2 separate regions of the Homo sapiens genome follow, and region 1 is linked to region 2. Evidence: fine-mapped expression QTL. A gene starts in region 2. The other region holds a variant in brackets. All regions are shown on one strand. Distances are between the middles of the regions. Region 1 overlaps FRMD3 (FERM domain containing 3). Region 2 holds the start of KIF27 (kinesin family member 27).

Evidence for each region. PIP is the estimated chance that this variant, and not a neighbour inherited with it, causes the effect.
Region 1: its variant is the best candidate, but not a certain one, in a credible set for the expression of KIF27 in monocytes after Pam3CSK4 (Quach 2016, PIP 0.74).

What each region holds. Positions count from the first base shown.
Region 1 is chr9:83,327,234-83,331,626 of GRCh38, reverse strand. All of the region lies in intron 6 of FRMD3 (FERM domain containing 3), which reads left to right. Among named protein-coding and RNA genes, the nearest start is that of FRMD3-AS1, 110 kb to the right of the region's middle. The variant A/G (reference allele first, on the strand shown) is at 1,739.
Region 2 is chr9:83,919,511-83,923,903 of GRCh38, reverse strand. It overlaps KIF27 (kinesin family member 27), which reads left to right and starts at 2,472. Exons shown (of 18, transcript NM_017576.4): 1 at 2,472-2,533. LOC105376335 (serine/arginine repetitive matrix protein 1-like) reads right to left here and starts at 3,003. Exons shown (of 3, transcript XM_011519284.2): 1 at 2,643-3,003; 2 at 2,206-2,550. The coding sequence starts at 3,003. RefSeq lists enhancers at 1,072-1,576, 2,191-2,940 and silencers at 2,310-2,459, 2,490-2,869.

The DNA.
Region 1 (4,393 bases), 590 kb after region 2:
CAACCGATGAGCCTACATTGATACATTATAATCACTCATAGTTGATAGTTTACATTAGAGTTCACTCTTGGTGTACACTCTATGGGTTTGATGAATGTATAGTATCATTCCATTGCAATACCAATACCATTATAGTATCATACAGAGTAGTTTCCCTGTCCTAAAAATCATCCCTCCTTCTCCCCTAACCCCTGGCAACCGCTGATCTTTTTACTGTCTCTATAGCTTTTGCCTTACCCAGAATGTCATAGTTGGAATCATACAATGTGTAGTCTTTTCAGATTGGCTTCTTTCACTCAGTAATATGCATTTAAGTTTCCTCCATGTCTTTTCTTGGTTTAAGAGCTCATTTCCTTTTGGCATAAAATAATATTCCATTGTCTGTATGTATCATAATTTATCCATTTACCTGCTGAAAGACATCTTGGTTGCTTCCAAGTTTGAGCAATTATGAATAAGGCTGCTATAAATAACTGTGTGTAGGTTTTTGTGTAGACATAAGTTTTCAACTCATTTGGGTAAATACCAAACACCATGATTGCTCTATCATATGGTAAGAGTATGTTTAGTTTTATAAGAAACCACCACACTATTTTCCAAAGTGGCTGTAGCATTTCGCATTCCCACCAGCAGGGAATGAGAGTTCCTGTTGCTCCACATCCTTGCCAACATTTGGTGTTGTTAGTGTTCTGGATTTTGGTCATTCTAGCTAATAGAGTTGCATTTAGAAAGATTTTTATACAGGCATCTTTGGGCCTTTTAATATCATGTGAACTAGATGATATGGAGATGTGTCACTTACATAACCCACTGAGCCGAATGATTCTTCTAGGTAAGGGCTAGTTAAATATTTTTGGCTTTCTGGGTCATACGGTCTCTAGTGCAGTGACTCAGCTCTGTTTTGGTAAAGCAAAAGCAGATATAGACAATTCTTAAATGAGTGGGCCATGATTCAATAAAACTTTATTGACAACACAGGTGGCAGGCCACATTTGGCCTATGGGTCCTAGCTTGCTGACTCCTGTTCTAAACACATGGCAGACCAGGTATGGAATCAATTTCTACTTCACTCTCCTGCCTCTGTAGATAATTTTAAGTTATCAGGAGCCATATTTGTTTGTAAAACTATGTGTGAAAAATAATCTCTTGTAATTTTCAGACTTTAAGCTTGGTGTGCAGAGATGAGGACTGATTTAGAAATAGGTTATTCCTCCCTCTAGAGCCCTCTGGTGACTGGAGGAAGCCATTGCTGCAACCCCTGAGGACTTGATGGTCCTCTGTTTTTTTTGTTTTTTTTTTTTTGAGATGGAGTTTTGCGCACCGCAACCTCCACCTCCTGGGTTCAAGCAATTCTCCTGCCTCAGCCTCCGGAGTAGCTGGGACTACAGGCATGCGCCACCCTGCCGGGCTAATTTTGTATTTTTGGTAAAGACGGGGTTTCTCCATGTTGGTCAGGCTGGTCTCAAACTCCCAACCTCAGGTGATCCACCCGCCTCTGCCTCCCAAAGTGCTGGGATTATAGGTGTGAGCCACCATGCCTCGCCAGTCCTCTGTTCTTTTTGTCCCTCTTGGTTTCTGTTTTCCACAGCTTTAATCAAAGCCACCTGGGGTAAGAGGAAATACCCATTCCGTTAGTCCTGAGGGTGCTCGGAAGGGGTTTAAGATCAAGAATAAGATTGCTTTTACCATAAAGAACCCTGATAGACTTTGCTGGAGGTATTTCCTAGAGTTTCTACTC[A/G]GCTAGTCTTTTCTTCCTCTCATCACCAGTTCATCAGGTTTGTCATTAGAGACAGAGACATTTGCATTAACTTCAGTCATAGGTCATCAGCTTTTAAATATTCAAAAGGCTCAATTGGCAGTAAAGCAGTTTTGATGAAGTATATTCCTTGCCCTTGAAGAGCAGGAAAATCATCCAACTAGCCACACTATAATGATCCGGGGCAGTGAGGTTTGTGCTAGAAGCAAGAATGACACAGTGTGTTTTTTAAACAGAGTAATTATCTCTATTTCTTAAAGGTTATATTCTCTGTAAATCATGCGCCATGGCTATAGTTTAAAAAAATGGAGTTATCATTTTAAAAACGTCTAGGTTTCTAGAAACAAATACCCTGACATGAAAAATATCCTCTACCTTTGCTTCTGATGAATAGATCACAAGGGCCCTCTTAAGAAATGTTTTTGTCAGTTTTGAGAAGTGTGTTTATTGTGTAAAAAGAAGACAAGAAATAAATGTCTGGTTATTTTACAACCCCAATCTTTCTTAAGATGAGTTTTCTCTTTGTCATCGATCTCTCTCCCTGTATCATTTCCCTTCCCAAGTCCCTTCCAAACTCATAGAATCTCTCTCCCTGGTAGATTATCAAATCAATTTGCATTTTTTGTTGCTATTTGGTATAGCACCTTTCTTAGGAAGGGGGAAGATGGGATGATTTGGGATCAAATGCGTTCACTGTAAAAATGAAGTCCTGGCATTTTGTGGCCTAGGGTAAAGGACATTTCTAGGGAGGGATGGGCTGGGGCAAGTGGTGTGCATGTCCAAGCCATTCATGTTTTTTATACAGGTGAAATCTAGCTACGATGACCTTAAGGGGGAAAAAGCAATGTTACCAAAGTGCAATGTGGCCATGAAGAAGGAGAGAGGGTTATATTATTGAAAGTAGGAGTCAGCCATTACTTAATACATTGTCTGATTATATCTCACATGTGATTCTAACTTATGCATAGAGCTAAAGATTCTTTGAACTTTCAATGAGACTATAACAGTGAATTTATCCAGAGGATATTTATCCATCCTTCTATCCATTTATATTTCATCCATCCATCCATGCATCTTTCCATCCATCCATTCATACCACTAATATTTATCGAAGAGCAGCCTTTTGTGGGGCACTGTAGTAGTGTGGGATGGCCTAGCCCAGATTTTCGGCCATTTCATCCCCAAGCTGGGGTCTCCTTCATCATCCACACTCCCCTATGACCTCATGGTTTGAAAGATTTTATCTACAAAATAATTCATGAAGCAACAATTAATTTGCCTCCTAATTTTTATTAGTCAAAGACAGTTTTGACTATCATTTAGCGCCTTCGACTATCAAGAGGTCACTAGCCAACAGCAAAGAAATTTGACAGCCAATTTCTATGCTTAAGGGATCCTTGGAGTCCAAAGCAGTAGTTATAAAATGACAGTCCTTGGACTACACTGTGACCCAGATGTATGTAGTTTGAGCCAAATAATAGCTGTAAAAAATGGAACCAGTTGCCATAAAGTTCTGGCTTCAGTTGCGACTGGGGTTTTGGTCACATGGCTCCCTGACTTCTGTGTGGCAACACTCAGCAGCAGTGCCTCTTTAAAAGAATCCTTTGTCTCTGAATTGCCACCATCCCTGCTCTGCCAACTTACCTTCTCCTTCCATTGAGTTTGCAGCCACCATTTTTTTTTTTTTTTACAGATAAGGAAACAGAGTTCTGAGAAATTAACTTATCCAAGGCTACACAATTATGAAGCAATAGAACTTGACCTGAAATTTGAGTTTCCGTGCATTGTGCACTAATATCTTTCTAAGTTGCTGCTCTCCTATAAGCCTTGTCCCTGCATGGCCCCAGGGTGTTACCACTGTCTCTTTCATAGCGTGGCAGCTGTCCAAATTTGCAGCATTTTATCTAATGCTCTGCATAAAGATGGCTCCTAAAAGGATTTGCGAGAGATAATGTCCCTCTCTAAGTGAAAGATTGGAAATGACAGACTGGGAACTCTCATTTCCTTTCCATTTAGGATGTAGAAAGGCATGAGATATTGATCTCTCCTAACACCAAAATAACACCAACAAGCTGGCTAAATTACAAAATCATATTTTTTGAACCCATCTGAGAGCTGAAGATGCAAATCGATCTGAATGTATTAAAATCCAGAATGTCTTTCTTAGGAGAGTGGAAACGCATAGCTGCTTTCACTTCTGGTGGAGTGACAGGAAGAGAAGGATTACACCCTAGGTCAGGGCTAAGGGCAACTAGGCAAACTTTTAACCAGCATGAGAGCTGAGTGAAATCCCCTAGAGGCACTCCAGACCTTCAGCCTGGGTGGGGAAGCCCTTGCTGACGGCAGGAGGCAGGATGACAGGGAGGAGAAAAGTCTTCTAAAGTCCAGAGAGCCAGGGATGACACTGAAGAGCAAAGGAATCTCTCTCCAGCCCACATTCCACATGAATGCTATAAAGCATAGACAGCTCCCTGCAGTCGCTGAGTGCTAAAGTCCCAAGCCCTGCTGAAGGGCAAGTCTTGAGAGCACTCCCAAACATTTGAAGCCAGTGGTGTGGAAAATCTTTTATTCCAACAAAGCTAAATCTAAGTAAAGTTGCAACCAAGTTGCAGCAAAATGTAATCTAAGCCAAATTGA
Region 2 (4,393 bases):
TTAATTATTGAAGTTTTGTCAGCAGACCAGTCTGACTTACCAATTCACAGTCATGATGTGAGTTTTTGTTTGTTTTCAAAGAGTTCTAAAAATGCAACTTGGCCCTATAGTCAAATTGGGCAACCACAATCTCCACCAATCATGAGGGGAACCTTGGAAGACTAGGAAATAATCCATCACCCCAATCTGAAAAGCAAGCCCAGGACACTGGCTTTCGCATTTGATTGATACTGAGCCACTATCAGACATTCCCTTGACATCATGACTCAATACACAGGTATGTGTATAAATGAAATCTTAGAATTTTAAAAATTATGTATTATTTATTATTTTTTTGAGGTAGAGTCTCATTCTGTCACCCAGGCTGCAATGCCATGGTGCAACAACAGCTCACTGCAGCCTTGACCTCCCAGGCTCAAACCATTCTCTCACCTCCACCTCCAGAGTAACTGGAACTGCAGGCATACTCAGCCACACCTGGCTAAGTTTTGATTTTTTGTAGGGATGGGGGGTCTCATTATGTTGCCCAGGCTGGTCTCAAACTCCTGGGCTCAAGTGACCCTCCCAGTTCAGCCTCCCAAAGTGCTGAGATTACAGGTGTGAGCCACTGTGCCCAGACTGAATTTTTAAAATTTTAAATAATTCAGTTAAAAGAAAAAAAAATAAAAACTATAAATAAAATAGTCAGCTTTTTTCCCCCACCTTCATTCCTATATTTCATGAGAGAAGGAAGGGTTTTTGAAGATGCTTAGATTGTGCTACTAAAAACAGGAGGCATTAAAGCATTTAAAACTAAATTGGTAAAGTTAAATATTACCATACGACCCAGCAATTCCACTCTTACGTCCATACCTAAAAGACCTGAAAACAGGCTCGGCGCGGTGGCTCACGCCTATAATCCCAGCACTTTGGGAGGCCAAGGTGGGCGGATCACCTGAGGTCGGGAGTTCGAGCCCAGCCTGACCAACATGGTGAAACCCCGTCTCTACTAAAAATACAGAAAACTTAGCCAGGCGTGGTGGTGGCACATGCCTGTAATCCCAGCTACTCCAGAGGCTGAGGCAGGAGAATTGCTTGAACCCATGAGGCGGAGCTTGCAGTGAGTTGAGATAGCGCCACTGCACTCCAGCCTGGGCAACAGAGCGAGACTCCATCTCAAAAAAAAAAAAGGAACTGAAAACAGACATCCAAATATTGTATGTGAATGTCCATAGCAGCATGGAAACAGCCCAAATGTCCACCACCAGCTGAAGAATGGATAAACAAAATGTGGTATGTCTATATCCATACAATGGAATTTTTTCAGCCCTAAAAAGTCCTGATAGGGCCGGGCAGGGTGGCTCATGCCTGTAATCCCAGCTACTCCGGAGGCTGAGGCAGGAGAATCGCTTGAACCCATGAGGTGGAGGTTGCGTTGAGCCTAGATGGCGCCATTGCATTCCAGCCTGGGCAATAAGAGCGAAACTCCATCTAAAGGGCCGGGCGTGGTGGCTCACGCCTGTAATCCCAGCACTTTGGAAGGCCGAGGCGGGCAGATCACGAGGTCAGGAGATCAAGACCATCCTGGCTAACACAGTGAAACAAACCCCGTCTCTACTAAAAATACAAAAAATTAGCCGGGCGTGGTGGCACGCGCCTGTAATCCCAGCTACTCGGGAGGCTAAGGCAGGAGAATCGCTTGAACCCGGGAGGTGGAGGTTGCAGAGAGCCGAGATCACGCCACTGCACTCCAGCTTGGGCGACAGAGCGCGACTCGGTCTCAAAAAAAAGAAAAGAAAAAAAAGAAAAGAAGTCCTGATAGATGTTACAACATGACTGCATCTTGAAAACATTAAGCAAAAGAAGCTAGACACAAAAGGTCATATACTGAATGATTCCATCAATAAAGAAATGCCCAGAATAGGTAAAGCTATCACAGAGTCAGAAAGTAGATTAGTGGCTGGCTGGGGTTGTGGGGAGAGGGGAACCAGAAGGAATGACTGCTAACTGGTTTGGGGATTTTCTTTTGGGGTTATGAAAATGTTTCTGAACTATATACAGAGGTGATGGTTGCACAACACTGTGAATGCATTAAACGCCACTGAATTGTGAGTTTTAAGATGGTTTATGTTAGGCAAGTTTTACTCAATAAAAATAAAAATAAACTGAATTGGTAGCTAAGATATTGAAACACGGTGTGGAATCGTTCTCACTCATTTCACGAACCCGTAGAAAGATGCTTGCGCTCAGGCCTCACAGACCGGTCCCAGCGCGTTGGTGGGACACAACTCGGATTTGCAGGCAAGCCCAGGGGCCGGCCCTTTGCGGACTTCCTGGGGACGCAGGACTCCTGCGCGGCGGGCTTGGAGGCGTGGCCAGGATGGGGGCGGGGCCAGGACGCGGCATCCAGGAGAGGACGCGGCGGGAGGCGGGCTTCGCCGGTTGCCAGGAGAACTCGCGACAACAAAAGACGCGGACGGCGGCTGCGCGGTGTGGCAGAGCGAAGCTGAGGAGTCCAGCGCTCGCCGACAGGGGCCTGGGCTGTCCCGAGCCGGTCAGTGCTCGGCGGGCCTGGCGGGCGGTGCGGGGAAGTGGGGCGCCCTCCCTTCGCGGTGCCCGCCCTCCAGCCCGCCGCGCCCGCCGCTCCCGCGCCCCCAGCCGGCCGTTGGGACTAGTAGGCTCCGGCTTGGGGTCGGGGCCGCCGCGGGTGGGTAGCGGAGGGTGGGCGGTTGGGGCGCCAGCTAGGCCTATGGGGGCGTCCGAGGGGTCTGGGGTCGGGGCTGGGAGCCGGCGAGCGACTAGAGGCAGAGCGCCCCTTCCGGAGGAAGTTGGGTCAGCCCTGAGGAGCGGGTCCCGGGGAACACCGATCGACCGGAACGCGGGACCCGGCCTTTCAGAGCGCACCCTGTGTTCGTCTCGTGTCGCTGCACGGCGTGAGGTGCGACGCGAGGGCCACCACCACCGAGCGCTTTGTTTTATCGCAGGCGTCTTTTTCCCACCGTAGAGGTTGAAACTTGGGCGCATTTCCCACCGTAGAGGTTGAAACTTGGGCGCATTTCCCACCGTAGAGGTTGAAACTTGGGCGCATTTCCTACCGTAGAGGTTGAACCTTGGGCACATTCAAGCCCGAGAGCTCCCTCCCTCGGAGGCAGGTGACTATAAAGAGCAAAGCGCCCAGATTCTTTCTTTGAAACACCTTTTAAGTAACACCTTTTAAGTCTCCAGTGTTGAAAATCCTTGTTGTTTGCCCTTCTTTACTCTTTTGTCGTCTTTACGCATTTGGGGCCTTTTCTGAGCTCCGTATGCGATTTACTGTCCATCTACTGGCAAGTTTTTTATGAAAATAATTAACAAACCACACATTTAAGACAACCACTGCTTTCTGGGAAATCAAGGGTACGGGATGGCAACGGTTTTTGGAGACACTCATTCCTGACCAGTGACATGACATGAGGGATTCAATATTTCTCTTGCCTTTGCTCAGATTTCAAAAACCCGTTGAGTATACTTAAATACGACCAATCAGATTTTGCTTTTTTTTAAATCATTTATTGGCAACATAATACGTATGTTTCTGATGACTATAATTGATCAGAATCTGAAGTATAAGTGCTATGGATTGTGTAAAAACTTTATTTCTTGTATATTGATGTTTTACAAGCCCTATGTTTGTGGACCATTACTATTGTTTGTTTGTTTTGTTTTGAGACAGGGTCTCGCTCTGTTACTCAGGCTGGAGTGCAGTGGCACACTGCAGCCTCAACCTCCCGGGCTCAAGCGATCCTCCAATCTCAGCCTCCCAAGTAGCTGGGACTACAGGTGCGTCACCACAGCCTGGCACATTCTTGTATTTTTAGTAGAGACAGGGTTTCACCATGTTGCCCAGGCTGGTCTGGAACTCGTGGGCTGAAGCGATCCACCTGCCTTGGCCTCCCAAAGTGCTGGGATTACAGGTGTGAACCACTGTGCCCGGCCCCATTATTATTTTTTTTAATGCTTAGAATAAGTTTCAGTTGCCTTTATAACCAAATTCTTTATAGATATTACCATTAAAAACCCCAAGAAATGAGGCTGGGCATCGTGGCTCACATTTGTTTTGTTTTGTTTTCAGGAGGGATCCTCTCGCTTCAGCCTTCTGAGTAGCTGGGATTACAGGCGCACGCCACCATGCCTGCCTAATTTTTGTATTTTTAGTAGAGACAGGGTTTCTCCATGTTGCCCAGGCTGGTCTCGAACTCCTGGGCTCAAGTGATCCACCCGCCCTGGCCTCCCAAAGTGCTGGGATTACAGATGTGAACCACCGTGCTGGGCCATGGTTTTTTTTTTTTCAAGGGTAGTGAATATTATCAATTCATTGTTGTTAGTGTTATTAATAAAATATTATTTCAGTCTAGTTGTCTGTGTTACTTAATGG